Regions from separate parts of the Homo sapiens genome. Here region 2 is linked to region 1. Evidence: fine-mapped expression QTL. A gene starts in region 1. The other region holds a variant in brackets. All regions are shown on one strand. Distances are between the middles of the regions.

Region 1 (4,404 bases):
AAGTCCCAAGATCTGCAGTTGGCAAGCTGGAGACTGAGGAGAGCCAATGGTGTATTTCCAGCGCAAATGCTGGCAGACTTGAAATCCAGGAAGAAGCAGTGTTTCAGTTAAAGTCTAAAGGCAGGAAGAAATCCCATGTTCCAGATAGAAGGCAGTGAGGCAAGAGTAATTCTCTCTTATTGAGGGAAAGGTCAGCCTTCTGTTGTATTTAGGCCTTCAACTGATTGGATGAGCCCCACCCAATTAGAGAGGAGAATATGCTTTACTCAGTCTATCAATTTAAATGTTAAACTCATCCAAAAAAAAAATACCCTCACAGAAACATCGAGACTAGCCAAATATCTGGGCATCCCATAGCTCAGTCAGGTTGATGCATAAATTAACTATCACACCTACAAAAACAAGAGGGGAAAGGGAGAGGTATAATTGAATTTAAAGAAAACCACAGATAAAATGCCTATCAAAACTTAGATTCATTTTATTCTCTCTTCAGTTGTTTTTAAATCCATCACATCTGAGTGCTTTTGAAAACATAGAAATCTGTCTAGACTCCGTATAATATATATGAAGAAATTGAGATGCAAAAAAGTAAAGTGACTTGTCCAAGGTCACACAGTTCATTAACCATAAAGTCAAACTAAAAGCAAAATCTTACAACTTCAGTGTTCTTTCTAGTCATACACCAGTATAATTTCCCCTTTATCACCTGTATGCATGATATGAGAACTGGATAAAGTACAAACTGAATTTCAAAATGTCAATGATAAATGCATTCTTGATACATGACTGTCTTTTGTAAACATGTCCATCTGTACAAAGTAGTGATTATGATTCAGATCTCAAAGTACTTTGGGCACAGTTATTCCTGAACAGTGTGATGATTTGGAATTAATTCAAAACATACTCTGTTCATCCTCTCATAAGGGTTTTTGAACAAAGAAAATAAACCTTTAACACTGCCTGTGAAAGTAAAAGGCATGATAAGAAGGTTTGTATCCAGGCATGGAGCCAGAATGAACTATTCATTTTCAAGCTGTGGTAACTGAGAGAAGACATCTCTTTTAACCTAACTAGCTTGGAAAAGCACTGCTTTCTTCCTCCATATGTAGACTAAAAATACCATTTCTACATTCCCAAATGGCGTGTTTGTGTGAGTGGTCATGGGTAACCAATACTTTCTTACATGTTTCTAAAATCTGTCAAGTTTTCAGGTAAATATTCATATAGAGACTTTCACATTTTCAGATTAATTTTGTAAAAACTAATTACGAACCCGCATGAGGGTACTGATGCTTTCCCTTAATGAACCATTTTCAAAGTTTCCATAAAAGGAATCTCAAAATAGATTATAATGAATTCCTCTGTCGCATATTATCATGGAACAAAGTGGCACATTTTTAGAAGTGGGCTACTGAGAAATGAATCTAGCAGGGGAGGCGTGAGTAGAAGGAATCTAGAAGAAAATAAGTTTAAACACTTCGCTTTGGCTCACTTGCCTGGGTTTCAGCTGCAGCTACTGTACTTTGATACTGAAGAAGCAGGGCTAGATATTTGCAAGTCCAAGCAGGAGGGCTGCAAGCCTGCAAATCTAACAGCTGGAGAGTGTTGTGGTGGCTGCTTTCCTGTGGTAAGCTGATTTACTTGTTTAAGGTCTGACCTCATCATCCTGTCAGCATGGGTTCCCACCTACACTGTTAGCTGCAGCCTTCTGCTTCTGCTAGAAGGCTACAAGTATTCACAGTGTATCATAGGCAGTGGGGGAGGGGAGAGAAAGCAAGAAAGACTGCTCTCGGCACTTGTGCTTTTGTTAGTTCTACAGAAGAGGCAGAAAAACAAGAGATAACAAAGGCTCCGTTTCCTTTCTGTGAGAGAAGGCTTTTGTCTTTCCTCCTGCTACGATGTCAGTGTCTGGCAAGAAAGAGTTTGATGTGAAACAGATCCTAAGGCTACGCTGGAGGTGGTTTAGTCATCCTTTTCAAGGTTCCACCAACACTGGAAGCTGTCTTCAGCAGGAAGGATATGAGCATAGAGGGACCCCGGTTCAGGGCAGGTTGAAGAGCCACTCTCGGGACAGAAACGGACTGAAGAAAAGCAACAGTCCTGTCCACCACAATATACTGGCACCAGTGCCAGGACCGGCCCCTGCCCATCAGAGAGCCGTTCAGAATTTGCAGCAACATAATCTGATAGTACATTTTCAAGCAAATGAAGATACTCCTAAATCAGTTCCAGAGAAGAATTTATTCAAAGAAGCTTGTGAGAAACGCGCACAAGATTTGGAGATGATGGCTGATGACAATATAGAAGATTCTACAGCAAGGTAAGAGTTTTTGGTCGCATAACTGAATGCCGTAACTTCAGTTAACTTATCCTCTACAATTCATGTTTAGTGTTTAAATAGAAAGTGTCATAATAATCTCTGAGTTTGTATTCAGCCAATCAGAGTCTCTCAGAAACCGTCTCCTCTAAGTTTATAAAAGAAAACAGCAATAATGAATACGTCTTTATAATTACCGGAAATTTGGGGGGTGGGTTATGAGTTTACTTCTCCTATTTTCATTAAGAATTCTGTTTCAATTCTAAGAGATGTTTATTGTAATTACTAATGTTCTATAAATACACTCCGTGGCTCAGATGTTTAAATGCAATTCTTTGTGCAAGTGTTATGAATCACGGAGAACTCTTTCTGACATTGTGAGTTAGGCCAACTTTAACAAAATAAAAGCTGTGACTGATCAGCACATCCTTATCTGTTTCCTTAGTACATAGTTGCGATATTGACTCTTAAAACTGTGTTATCTTTATGTGACAATATGGAATATTTGGCGTTCGGAGACTCATTTCAAGTTGTATTACTTTCATAGCTAGTTTTTGCAAGCATGAAAATATTCTACATAAAGCAGGTAATAAGATGCTACTTACAGCAATGTGATCTTAAAGCGGGAAATGGAGCATTTCAGCTTTTACATAAAATGAAAATTGAATAAACAGTGACGATATAGTGTAGTTTGGGTATAGTTCATAAAACATTTGATTTTGTCTTTACTTTTATGCCCACCGGTATTGTTTGAGTGCAAGAAAATTACATTCTGTTCTCTAATACTGTCAACTATAACTTAACCTAGTGTATCCTTATCTCTTTGTTTTTTGCTTTTTCACTATCAGACATTTTTATAGTCCCAACGTGTTTTAGACACAGTTGATAATATTGGCAATGTAATTAATATTCAGTAGTACTATAGAAAAATAAGTGTTTTTATGCATTTTAGATCATATAGTAGTTCAACATGCTAATTTATTTGGAAACCTGGATATCTGGCATACTATGTCTCTACCTAAAAATAGAGAAGAAGGACTGGCAGATTTGCTTCTTAATATAAGTTTTCCCAATAAAACAACCTCACAGTGTCTTGCTTTCATAAATTCAAAACAGTTTATCAGAAGAAGAAGCAGCCTAATAACATTACAGCAAAATGATGCCTTTATAGGAACTCAGTCTTGTTGAAATATAAACATGCAGAAGACTTTGTGAAATGACATTAATAATAATGTTAGATTGTCTGTCATATAAACTTCTCAGGAAATAAAGCACGTATGTGTGAAATTTTCCTAAATATTTTGTGCTTGCTCGTGGAAAAGCTATATAACTGTAGGGATTGCAGGTTGCATTTGGTACAACAAATAAGACTCTCAAAGTAATATAGAGTCCATAATTTTAAATTCAGCAGGCTTTCAAATTTGTTCTCGTCACCAAGAACAATTTTTAAAAAACTGCTGAATTTGGAGATTAATAAATGAATTTAACTCTGCTGTAGGGAAATTTAAATTACCAACTGTAACTTTGGAACAAAATTATTTGAGAATACATGAATTAATTTTCTAGTATGGGAATATTTACAATAAAATAGATGTTAGAAAAAATGTTAGGTAAAATGTCACATTTAAAGCGTCATCAAGTGACAGTTTAAAAAGCGCATTTATCCTTTGATTTTATTCCTGACATTTTTTATTTTCTAAAGAAATGCCTTGTTAATTATTCTATGGTTTCATTGGAAAGCTAACGTTTTCTTAATATACATACAGGAAATGGTTTTATAGGTGTGCCAAGGATATCTTAGGCAGGAGGGGCTAAATTGAAGATCTTATTAATTGAAATACGATGGTTTATTACCTTCTCCTTAACCATTCTAAATCTTCCTGTCTTGGTCCAGCATCATTTGAGAAGGAGCTTTCTGATGCCTTGCTTCTCCAGTGCCTCTCTTCTTGAGCAATATTGAGGAGCAGGAAGAAAAGATCCCAACAAGTTGGCAGCAGGCTGCCATCCCCTCAATATGACTCCAGTGGTTTTTTAAAAAAGAAAACAGTAGTGAGTGTGGAGAATTATCATACTAGCACAAGATGAGC
Region 2 (4,404 bases), 120 kb before region 1:
AAAAATACAAAAATTAGCCAGGCGTGGTGGCAGACACCTGTAATCCCCGCCACTTGGGAGGCTGAGGAAGGAGAATCGCTTGAAGCCAGGAGGCAGAGGTTGCAGTGAGCCGAGATCATGCCACTGCACTCCAGCCTGGGTGACAGAGAGTGACTCTGAAGAAAAAGAAAGAAAGAAAGAAAGAGAGAGAGAGAGAGAAAGAAAAAGAAAGAAAGAAAGAAAGAAAGAAAGAAAGAAAGAAAGAAAGAAAGAAAGAAAGAAAGAAGAAAAGAAAAAAGTAAAGAAAGAAAATTTTCCATTATGTGTTTTTACCAACATTTGGCTACCTGGGTCAGAGATTTTTCAGGTACATATAACAAATGACAGAGGAGGTTTAGGTACTGGCATGAGAGTAATTAAAATAACAAACCACAGCATCTGAAATAGAGAATAAAATGAAAACAAAAGAAGGATGATGGATACAAAATTAGGTCATTAGAATGCTAGTCCTGATAAGGGACAAGAATAATAATAGGAAGAGTTTAGAAAATAGCCTGGAAAGATAAATGTTGATCAAAGTAGGAGGTTTGAACTAGTGATTTAGTAACTACAGTAGTTCAGGATGATGACAACGTTCATGGTATGACAGTGAGAATGGTGGCTATTGAGTGGAGAAAAAGGCCATTAGAAATGAGAAGTTTAAAGAAACTGAGACTAAAGGGTGATTTATGTATTGTTAACCTGGATTTTGAAATTACTGAGAGTGTGTGAGGATTTGCATTAAAAAAGAATACACATGTTATGGGCTGAATTGTGTCTATTCTCAAAGTTGATATGTTAAATTCCTAAGCCCTAGTACCTCAGAGCGTGACTGCATTTGGAATTGGGTCTTTAAAGATGTAGTTAAGAAAAAATTAGGTCGTTAGAGTGACCTCTTATAAGAAGAGGAGATTAGGACACAGATACATACAGAGAAAAGACTATGTGAACCCATGTTAAAGAAAAAATATTCTGACACTTGTTAAAACACTAAGGTTTCAAGGTCATTGCACTAGGAAAGACAAGATTGAGCTCAATTTCAAATTTAAAAACAGTTGGTGATTTATAGCCAATCAGCAGACTGAAGGGGCCAGTGGATGGAAAATTACTAAAAGGCAATGCTAAGGAGATTCTTGCTAAACCAACTTAACAGGATTCTTTCTGAATGCAGGCCAAGAACTTAGACATTAAAGGTGGGGGATGTTGAACATGGTCTGATATCAAGGGTGGGGTATTATCTCTTAAATGACTAATCAGGATTCTTGCTAAAAGTACGTTATGCAAGCCTGACAAAAATTAAAAAGAAATTGGGCAAGCTCAAGGTCTAGCTGAAAAAAGGGGCTCAGAGGAATGTCACTAAAGTTTGGTCAAGGAGACTCTTTGTCAGACACAGAGATAAGACAGCAATCTACAAGCCAAGGAGAGAGAAACATCTCAGAAGAAACCTCCCCTACTGGTACTTTAATCTTGGACTTACAGCTTCCAGAATTGTGACAAAATAAATTTGTGGTTTTTTTTAAAGACATGAAGCCGGTGGCTGTTTGTTATGGCAACCCTAGCAAACTAATAAACTGTGATTCAGTAAATGAAGCAGAATAGCCAAGTGAACAGTGGATTGTGGTGACAGAGATGAGTAGAGAGAAATTACAGCCAGATGTCATGATATTAAAGTGACTGATGGAATACCATTCAGCCTTTAAAATGGAAGAAATTCTGTCATTTTTAACAATATGGATGAAATTTGGAGGTCATTATGCTAAATGAAATAAGCTAAACACAGAAAGAAACACCATATGTTTCCACTTATATGTGGAATCTAACACACCCAAACTCATAAAAGTAGAGATTAGAGTGGGGGTTGACGAAGGCGGAGGCTGGAGGGAATGAGATGGCAATCCAAGAGGACAAATACTCAATTAGATAGAAGGAATAAGCTTTATTTTTGTGGAGATCTGTTGCACAGCATAATGCATATAGTTGATATTTCAGTACTATACATTTCAATATTGCTTAGAGAGTAAATCTCAAATGTTCTTAGAATAAAATATGTCAAATATTTGAGGTTATGGATAGGTTCATTAGCTTTATTTAATAATTCCAGGTTGTATTAAAAAGTCATATCATCACCTTCTATCCCATAAATATATAAAACTATAATTTTTTTAATATATAATTTAAAAATTTTTTAAAAGTGGCTGAGGAAGTAGTAGATTACAAGTCATTACAAAGGCCATACAGATTCACCTGCCAACCAAAGTTTGATAATAATAATAATAACATCAACAATGACAATAAAAATAGCACCAAATAATTCTCTATTGATTCCTATATGCCAAGTATTGTTCTAATCACTTAATACACATTAACTCATTTAAT[A/C]CTCAAAACCCTCTTATTACCTCTATTTCATAATAAGAAAACTAAAGCATAGAAAGATTAAATCATTTCTCCAAGGTTATATCACTAGTCAGTCATAGGACTAATATTCAAGCCAAGACATTCAGAATCAATGCCTCTTCTCTGTCTGGACCAATATGCTACAATGTATACAGGATATGGATTTTTTAAAAAAGCCTCCCTTAGCTTTTGTCCAAAGTCACACATCTCATGAAAGGCAGACTCCAGATCCAACTAAATATTCTTCTTTCAATTTTGGTATTCATATTGGCATTCATATTTCGAACAAAAATTTTACTGAACAAATTGTGGTAACCTAGTCAATTGTGATTAATAGTGCCAGTTTGTTAATTCAATTATATAAAGGGAGATTTAACCTGTTGGACAAAAGTGGAAGTTTTAGAAATTACTTAGAAAAATATTAGGTTTAAGAATGTATCATTCACTCTTCTGACATAACATTATAGACCTAAGAATTTTATAATTTAATGGTTTTTTGTTGATATGGTTTGGCTGTGTCCCCACCCAAATCTCATCTTGAATTGTAACTTCCACAATTCCCATGGGCATGGGAGGAACCTGGTGGGAGGTGATTGAATTAAGGGGGCAGGTCTTTCCTGTTCTGTTCTCATGATAGTTAATGAGTCTCGTGAGATCTGATGATTTAAAAAGGGGAGTTTTCCTGCAAGCTCTCTTCTCTTGTCTGCTGCCATGTGAGAAGTGCCTTTCACCTTCCACCATGACTATGAGGCCTCACCAGCCATGTGGAACTGTAAGTCCAATAAACCTCTTTCTTTTGTAAATTGCCCAGTCTTGGGTATGTCTTTATTAGCAGCATGAAAACAAACTAATACAGAAAAATGCTACCACTAGAGTGGGGTTCTGCTGAAAAGATACCCAAAACTGTGAAAGCAACTTTGCAACTGGGTAACAGGCAGAGGTTGGAACAGTTTGAAGGACTCAGAAGAAGACAGGAAAATGTGGGAAAGTCTGGAACTTCCTAGAGACTTGTTGAATGGCCTTGACAAAAATTCTGATAGTGATATGAACAATAAGGTGCAGTCTGAGATGGTCTCAGATGGAGATGAGGAATTTGTTGGGAACTGGAGCAAAGGTGACTTGCTATGTTTTAGCAAAGAGACTGGTGGCATTTTGCCCCTGCCCTAGAGATTTATGGAACTTTGAACTTGAGAGAGGTAATTTAGGGAATCTGGCAGAAGAAGTTTGTAAGCAGCAAAGCATTCAAGAGGTGACTTGGGTGCTGTTAAAGGCATTCAGTTTTAAAAGGGAAAAAGAGCATGAGAGTTTGAGAAATTTGCAGCCTGACAAGGCGATAGAAAATAAAATCCCATTTTTTGAGGTGAAATTCAAGCCAGCTGCAGAAATTTTCATAAGTAATGAGGAACAGAATGTTAGTCCTCAAGATAATAAGGAAAATGTCTCCAAGGCATGTCAGAGGTCTGCGCAGAAGCCCCGCTTATCACAGGCCTGGAGGCCTAGGAGAAAATAGTGGTTTCGTGGGTGGGGCCCAGGGTCCCTGTGCTGTGTGTAGTCTAGGGACTTGGTGCCCTGCATCCCAGCCACTCCAGCCATGGCTGAAAGGGGCCAACATAGAGCTCAGGTTGTGGCTTCAGAAGGTGCAAGCCCCAAGCCTTGGCAGCTTGCACGTAGTGTTGAGCCTGTGAGTGCACAAAGTCAAGAATTGGGGTTTGGGAACCTTCACTTAGATTTCAGAAGATGTATGGAAATGCCTGGATGCCCAGGAAGAAGTTTGCTGCAGGGGTAAGACTCTCATGGAGAACCGCTGCTAGGGCAGTGCAGAAGGAAAATGTGTGGTTAGAGCCCCCAAAGATTCTCTACTGGGGCAGCACCTAGTAGAGCTGTGAGAAGAAGGCCACCGTCCTCCAGATCCCAAAATGGTAGACCCACCCACAGCTTGCACCGTGTGCCTGGAAAAGCTGCAGACACTCAACAGCAGCCTATGAAAGCAGC

Which allele goes with the higher level. Alleles are on the strand shown, and positions count from the first base shown. SD is a standard deviation of normalised expression in the study named.
With allele A in place of C in region 2, the expression in adrenal gland of the gene that starts at base 1,807 in region 1 is higher (moderate effect, 0.51 SD a copy in GTEx).

The links. PIP is the estimated chance that this variant, and not a neighbour inherited with it, causes the effect. A credible set is the group of variants that fine-mapping cannot tell apart.
Region 2: its variant is the best candidate, but not a certain one, in a credible set for the expression of KLHL4 in adrenal gland (GTEx, PIP 0.80).

The regions. Positions count from the first base shown.
Region 1 is chrX:87,515,996-87,520,399 of GRCh38, forward strand. KLHL4 (kelch like family member 4) reads left to right here and starts at 1,807. Exons shown (of 11, transcript NM_019117.5): 1 at 1,807-2,320. The coding sequence starts at 1,899. RefSeq lists enhancers at 987-1,762, 1,763-2,538.
Region 2 is chrX:87,396,083-87,400,486 of GRCh38, forward strand. No RefSeq gene overlaps it. Among named protein-coding and RNA genes, the nearest start is that of KLHL4, 120 kb to the right of the region's middle. The variant A/C (reference allele first, on the strand shown) is at 2,395.